Linked DNA regions of Homo sapiens. The protein of the gene in region 1 interacts with the protein of each later gene in a pairwise test. Each region holds a gene or a part of one and is shown in the gene's direction. Other genes may lie near its edges. The genes, in order: DEDD and SHMT1.

Region 1 (3,823 bases):
AGATAACGATGGGGCAATCAATGGGTCTGAAGCAGGAAAGTGACTTGGTCAGTTGTGGACTTCAGACAGCTAACTGAACTAGATGTGGCAGTGGATGGATTTAGGTAGGTTAAGATTGGTGTTGCAGAGAACTTTTAAAGTTACAGTAGTCCAGGTGAGAGATTATTGTAATCTGAACCATGGCAGTGGAGGTGGAAAGGTAGGATAGATTTAAGAAATATCTAGAAGTAGCATTAACAGGAATTTAGGATTGATTGTGTGATTGGAGAGTGTGACCAGAGAGTGCACAGTATAGGATGGTACTGTCTGGTGGAGCAGTAAGTATGAGTGACTTGAGTCAAAGTTGTTGAATTTGGGAATTGATTAATGGCTGCGTCATTGGTATTACCTGTAGCCCATAACGATGGAGGAACTTTGTGAATCAAGAGCCAAACTATATAACGAATGTGGAGCTGTGATTGGTCATTGATAGGGGATTGGTAAATGACATCCATGAGGAAAGCTTAGAAGGTGGTATTGCCAAGGCCAGGTACGGTGGCTCACGCCTGTAATCCCAGCACTTTGGGAGGCCGAGGTGGGTGGATCACCTGAGGTCAGGAGTTCAAGACCAGCCTGACCATCATGGTAAAAACCCATCTCTACTAAAAATACAAAAATTAGCAAGACGTGGTGGTGCGTGCCTGTAATCCCAGCTACTTGGGAGGCTGAGGCACGAGAATTGCTTGAACCTGGGAGGCGGAGGTTGCAGTGAGCCGAGATTGCACCACTGCACTCCAGCCTGGGTGACAAAGTGAGACTCCATCTCAAAAAAAAAAAGTTGATATTGCCAAATAGGGTGAAGATCAAGGGAGTACAAATGGCATAGAATTACAAGAATGCTTATTGTAGAAACTTAATGTTTATTTTAAATCCATGAGTTTTGGTAAATATTGATAAACTTTCTGAGCAGTTATCATTTCTTGATGTGGTTGGATTGTAGGAAAAATGTGGAGGGATGATTCTGGGCTGCAAAGGCCAAGGATGCTTGTATCTTTGAAATGTTTCACAACCATTTATATAAGGGTTACCCGTGATTTTCTCATTGGATTCTTAACAACTCTGAGGTGTATATTCATTCATCCCTGTTTATAGATGACAGCACTGAGAATCTGGAGTTAAGTGACTTGCTTACGGTCACACAGCTACACAGCCTTTCAGTGATACAGTCAGAATTTAAACTAGTTCTTTTTTTTCCGAGATGGGGGACTCACTCTGTCACCCAGGCTACAGTGCAGGATTATGGCTCACTGCAGCCTTGAACTCCTGGGCTCAAGTGATCCTCCTGCCTCAGCCTCCTGAGTAGCAGGGACTACAGGCACATGCCACCATGCCTTGCTAATTTTTTTCTTTTTTGTAGAGATGGGGTCTTGCTATGTTGACCAGGCTGATCTTGAACTCCTGGCCTCAAGCCTTCCTCCCACCTCAGCCTCCTGTGCAGCTGGGACTACAGGCGTGTACCACCAAGCCCAGCTAATTTTTTCTTTTTTTGTAGAAACGGGTCTCCCTATGTTGCCCAGGCTGGTCTTAAACGCCTGGGCTCAAGTGATCCTCCTGCCTTGGCCTCCCAAAATGCTGGGATTACAGGTGTGAGCCCCTGTGCCTGGCCAGTGTTTATTTTTAAACAAACACTTCAAAAATTTAATAAACATGTATAAAGCACTATACTGTGCCAGGCATTGTTAGCAACTGGGAATATGGGAATGCATGAGACTAGTTCCTGCCCTTGAGTGTCTCATCGGTTCTTTCCCTGCCCTTTCAGTACGGTGGGGATTGCAGCTGCTGAGCAGGGATTCTGGAAAGCATTGCGTACCTGAGCCCCCAGCATGGCGGGCCTAAAGCGGCGGGCAAGCCAGGTGTGGCCAGAAGAGCATGGTGAGCAGGAACATGGGCTGTACAGCCTGCACCGCATGTTTGACATCGTGGGCACTCATCTGACACACAGAGATGTGCGCGTGCTTTCTTTCCTCTTTGTTGATGTCATTGATGACCACGAGCGTGGACTCATCCGAAATGGACGTGACTTCTTATTGGCACTGGAGCGCCAGGGCCGCTGTGATGAAAGTAACTTTCGCCAGGTGCTGCAGCTGCTGCGCATCATCACTCGCCACGACCTGCTGCCCTACGTCACCCTCAAGAGGAGACGGGCTGGTGAGGAAGTATTAGGGGCTGGAATCAGGGAAGAGTTGTGGGAGGCCAGGAAGGAGCAGCATAGGCGTCCAAAGGGGAGGACACATTGATCCTGGGGAGTACTTAGAGTAAGTTGTGAGGCCCACTGGGGGTTTGGACTGACAGAAGGGAAGGGTGTATATTTTCCTGAATGATTACTTCTCCTCCTACAGTGTGCCCTGATCTTGTAGACAAGTATCTGGAGGAGACATCAATTCGCTATGTGACCCCCAGAGCCCTCAGTGATCCAGAACCAAGGCCTCCCCAGCCCTCTAAAACAGGTGAGAAGACATTAACTCCCCCTGCTTTCCATCATCAAGTAAAAGGACACTGATCCCATCACATTCTGGGCTTTGCCAGCTTAAATGAAAGGATGCTGTGCGCCCACATCTTGCCCCATAAAAAAAAAAAATCAGGCGAGGTGACATTTCTCCTAGGTCCTGTATTTGCTCTCACATGTCTTGTCTTTTTTTTTTTTTTTTTTGAGACAGAGTCTCCCTCTGTCGCCCAGGCTGGAGTGCAGTGGCGCAATCTCGGTTCACTGCAAGCCCCACTTCCCAGGTGCACGCCATTCTCCTGCCTCAGCCTCCTGAGTAGCTGGGACTACAGGCGCCCGCCAGCACGCCCAGCTAATTTTTTGTATTTTTAGAGACGGGGTTTCACCGTGTTAGCCAGGATGGTCTCGATCTCCTGACCTCATGATCCACCCGCCTTGGCCTCCCAAAGTGCTGGGATTACAGGCGTGAGCCACTGCACCTGGTCTCACATGTCTTTTCAAGTCACATTTTTCCACTGCTTTTAGTGCTAAGTCTAAATGATTCCTTCCTCATTCCAACAGAAGTGTTTGAATTTCTGCCTTTACCCTACTGTGTTTTCTTCCCTTTTACTTTCTGGTCAGTGCCTCCCCACTATCCTGTGGTGTGTTGCCCCACTTCGGGTCCTCAGATGTGTAGCAAGCGGCCAGCCCGAGGGAGAGCCACACTTGGGAGCCAGCGAAAACGCCGGAAGTCAGTGACACCAGATCCCAAGGAGAAGCAGACATGTGGTGAGGAAGTTCAAGGGTTCCAGAGATGGAGCAGACTTGAAGGAGAATATAAAGAACTGCTGGGACACTGGGCAGTTTATGCTATTCAGTGTGAGATTCACTTTGATTGCCATTGCAAAGTGAGGCTGAATGGTTTGGTGTCTGGTGGAAGAACTGCTCTTTATGATTGTGGCAGGGTACATTTCAACTCTTGTTAGTTAATACTACATCACAGGGATGTTGTTATGACATCCTTATTGTAGGATGAGCCAAGTCGAGTATTAAAATGAACTTCTATGCCTGGTAATTAGGAAAATATCTCCTATAAACAAGTTGCTACCTGTGAGTAATGGGAACAGTGCTGACCTCGGCATGTCCCGTTTAAGGGAACCTCCTGCATTCAGGCAAGGATTTCAGAGATACATAGAAATAGTCCTGGGGAAGAGGTAGAGAAGCTGTCAGGTGATATTCCCTACTTTTTTATTCTGTTGTGCTTTTCAGTTTTCAAGCTTGGCTTGTAAACTCATCCCTTACTGTAACCTCTTCTGCTCTGTATCTTCTGTTTCCAACAGACATCAGACTGCGGGTTCGGGC
Region 2 (2,912 bases), on another chromosome or scaffold:
CCACTGCACTCCAGCCTTAGCAACAGAATGAGACTCTGTCTAAAAAAAAAAAAACTGGGCCAGGTGCAGTGGTTCACACCTGTAATCCCAGCACTTTGGGAGGCCGAGGTGGGTGGATCACGAGGTCAGGAGATTGAGAAGGCTAACGCGGTGAAACCCTGTCTCTACTAAAAATGCTGTGGTGGCACACACCACGGTCCCAGCTACTCAGGAGGCTGAGGCAGAAGAATTGCTTGAACCCAGGAGGCAGAGGCTGCATTGAGCCGAGACTGCGCCACTGCACTCCAGCTTAGGCGACAGTGAGACTCCGTCTCAAAAAAACAAAAACAAAAACAAAAAATGGAGCGGGGGCAGGGACCATACCTTGGCTGTCTCTTGGCTGTGCCTTTGTACTTGGCCCTGACCCTGCCAGGGAGCAAAAAGACTGATGTAGAGCTGTTGGAGGTGGTACATTCATCAGATGAGGGAGGTCAGGGCCTCCGGAATCCAGAGGCTGCATTTCTCTGTGGGTTGTTAACAAAATATTGATGACGCATCTCAGACCCAGACAGATGTTACCCTCATTTTTAGGAGCAAGGGGCACATCAGACCACTTTGTGTACTAGTAATTAAGTCAGAGTGGCCAAACGTGGTTGTGCCTCCTTGTGCCTTGGGTTCTACTTTAGTTTCTGAATCAGTTGTACTCCTTGCTAGGGACAGCCAGTATCCTCAGGCCAGTTCTCTTTTGCCCACATGTCCCTTTTTAAATGCACCACCATCACAGTGGTGACAATGTGACTTAGGGACAGAGCCCCGTTTATCTTGTAGGTGACAGAAGCGCTCTGCGGCCCAGTGGACTGCGGCTGGGGACCCCAGCACTGACGTCCCGTGGACTTTTGGAAAAAGACTTCCAAAAAGTAGCCCACTTTATTCACAGAGGTAAGGATAAAAGTTTGGAAGTTGCCACATCTTATTGTGTGTATTTAGTTTCTGATTGTGATGAGTAGCTGAGACCCTGCCACTGAAAGACAATTCTGCACCAAGGCTGAGTGTTGGGGTGGGAGACAGCAAAAAACACATGTAAATCACCTTGTCTGAGAGGGTTATAAATTTGGGCTGCCCAGGACATCTGTCCAAGGGTGGGTGCATCTCAGAGTAATTGAGGTAAGCATGGAGACCTTGTGCCCTGCCACACTCCCCAGCTGGGGGACATTCTGACATTTGTGCCTCGGCCCCCAGCCATTGTACCCCCTTTGGTGTGTAGTGTGGGGTGACTCATTTGTGTCTTGTGGCACAGGGATAGAGCTGACCCTGCAGATCCAGAGCGACACTGGTGTCAGAGCCACCCTGAAAGAGTTCAAGGAGAGACTGGCAGGGGATAAGTACCAGGCGGCCGTGCAGGCTCTCCGGGAGGAGGTTGAGAGCTTCGCCTCTCTCTTCCCTCTGCCTGGCCTGCCTGACTTCTAAAGGAGCGGGCCCACTCTGGACCCACCTGGCGCCACAGAGGAAGCTGCCTGCCGGAGGACCCCCACCTGAGAGATGGATGAGCTGCTCCAAAGGGGAACTGTTGACACTCGGGCCCTTTGAGGGGGTTTCTTTTGGACTTTTTTCATGTTTTCTTCACAAATCAAAATTTGTTTAAGTCTCATTGTTAGTAATTCTGGGACAGGTTATTAAAGGATTTAAATTTGAACCTGGCTTTCTCACAGCTGGACATAATTCTAGGAAAATAAAATACTATGTCGCCACTTGGTCATAATCATTTAGATGGTGGTGTAGGGCAAAGCTGTTAGAAAGATTGTAGCGTTTTACTCTCCCTGGGCTTTCCTCCGCCTTGCTGCAACAGAGAGGAAATGCCCATGTCCACAGCTTGTACACACTGCCCCCTCACTATCTTGTTATCCAGTGGCATGCCAAAGGAGAACTGAATTAGCTTCTGAGGCTTCTGCTGTAAATCAGAAGTGTATGTTAGTCAAGAGTAAACAAGATGCACCCAGTATGGTGGGAGGGTTTTGCTGTCAGTAGCTCAAAGTATGGTGTAGAAATGGCCTCCTCCCTCCATCCTGGGAAGTCCCAGTCCCATCCTGGTGTGAGAATCAACCAGGCTTTCCTGCTCCACCTGAGATAACCAACTCCCTCCCGTAATCAGGAAGCCAAATGTCACCTTCCCAAAGAAATTTTATTTTCACGTAGCTGAAGTGCAAAACATAGATGACCATTTTTAATAAGCACAATCAAATTTTTAACCACAGAATGTCTACAAGAATTATAGCTTTAAAAAATACAACCAATTTTTATATTTCAAAAATATTTGAACTCAAATAAATTAATTTCTTAAAAAGTACACTTCTCATACTATGTGTTTGGCATTGACTCTGGTTAACTCTTGTGCAGCAACACCTACGAGATGCTATCACACACGCGCCAGCTGCACTCCTGCACCAGCCGCTGCAACGACTGCACCTCACGTGGTGGCGGGGACTCACATTCACAAGACGGGACGGGAACATGCAGTAATAAAATAGCTTTTTAAAAAATAACACATATAAATTCATCACATAGGATTATGCTTTTCACTGCAACCTTGAAGGTGGCATTTATCTCAATCTGTGACTCCAGCTATTTAGTGGCAGACAATCCCGGTGAGGCAGCCTGTGGTCCCACCTTGTAGGTGGCAGCCCCTGCAATCTGGGGTCTAGCCTGTCGGCGTTTGCTTTATTGTGGGTGGAGCAGCTGCTGCAGAATCTGTGAGTTGACTCACCAGTCCCTACAGTTCTGCTACCAAAGTGGTCTTCAATTTAGGGGCCTGACCCCTCCCCAGCTGGAGACAAGCTGCCATCTCCAGGGCTCGCTGTAAACAGCCTCCACTCTTGGGCTGAATAAGCACTCCCAAGAAGCTGGGCCCCTACCAACAGATTAATCGGCTGCAGAGT

What was found.
Region 2: the proteins of DEDD (region 1) and SHMT1 interact in a two-hybrid assay, tested with the Homo sapiens proteins (one large-scale study listed by BioGRID and IntAct).

Annotation. Positions count from the first base shown.
Region 1 is NC_000001.11:161,122,502-161,126,324, reverse strand, and holds part of DEDD (death effector domain-containing protein), read left to right. Parts: intron 1-879; exon of another isoform or gene 880-1,798; 5' UTR 1,799-1,862; coding exon 1,863-2,187; intron 2,188-2,378; coding exon 2,379-2,486; intron 2,487-3,103; coding exon 3,104-3,250; coding exon of another isoform or gene 3,251-3,340; intron 3,341-3,801; coding exon 3,802-3,823. UniProt on the Homo sapiens protein: A scaffold protein that directs CASP3 to certain substrates and facilitates their ordered degradation during apoptosis. May also play a role in mediating CASP3 cleavage of KRT18. Regulates degradation of intermediate filaments during apoptosis.
Region 2 is NC_000017.11:18,327,284-18,330,195, reverse strand, and holds the end of SHMT1 (serine hydroxymethyltransferase, cytosolic), read left to right. Parts: intron 1-807; coding exon 808-918; intron 919-1,276; coding exon 1,277-1,446; 3' UTR 1,447-2,323; downstream 2,324-2,912. UniProt on the Homo sapiens protein: Interconversion of serine and glycine.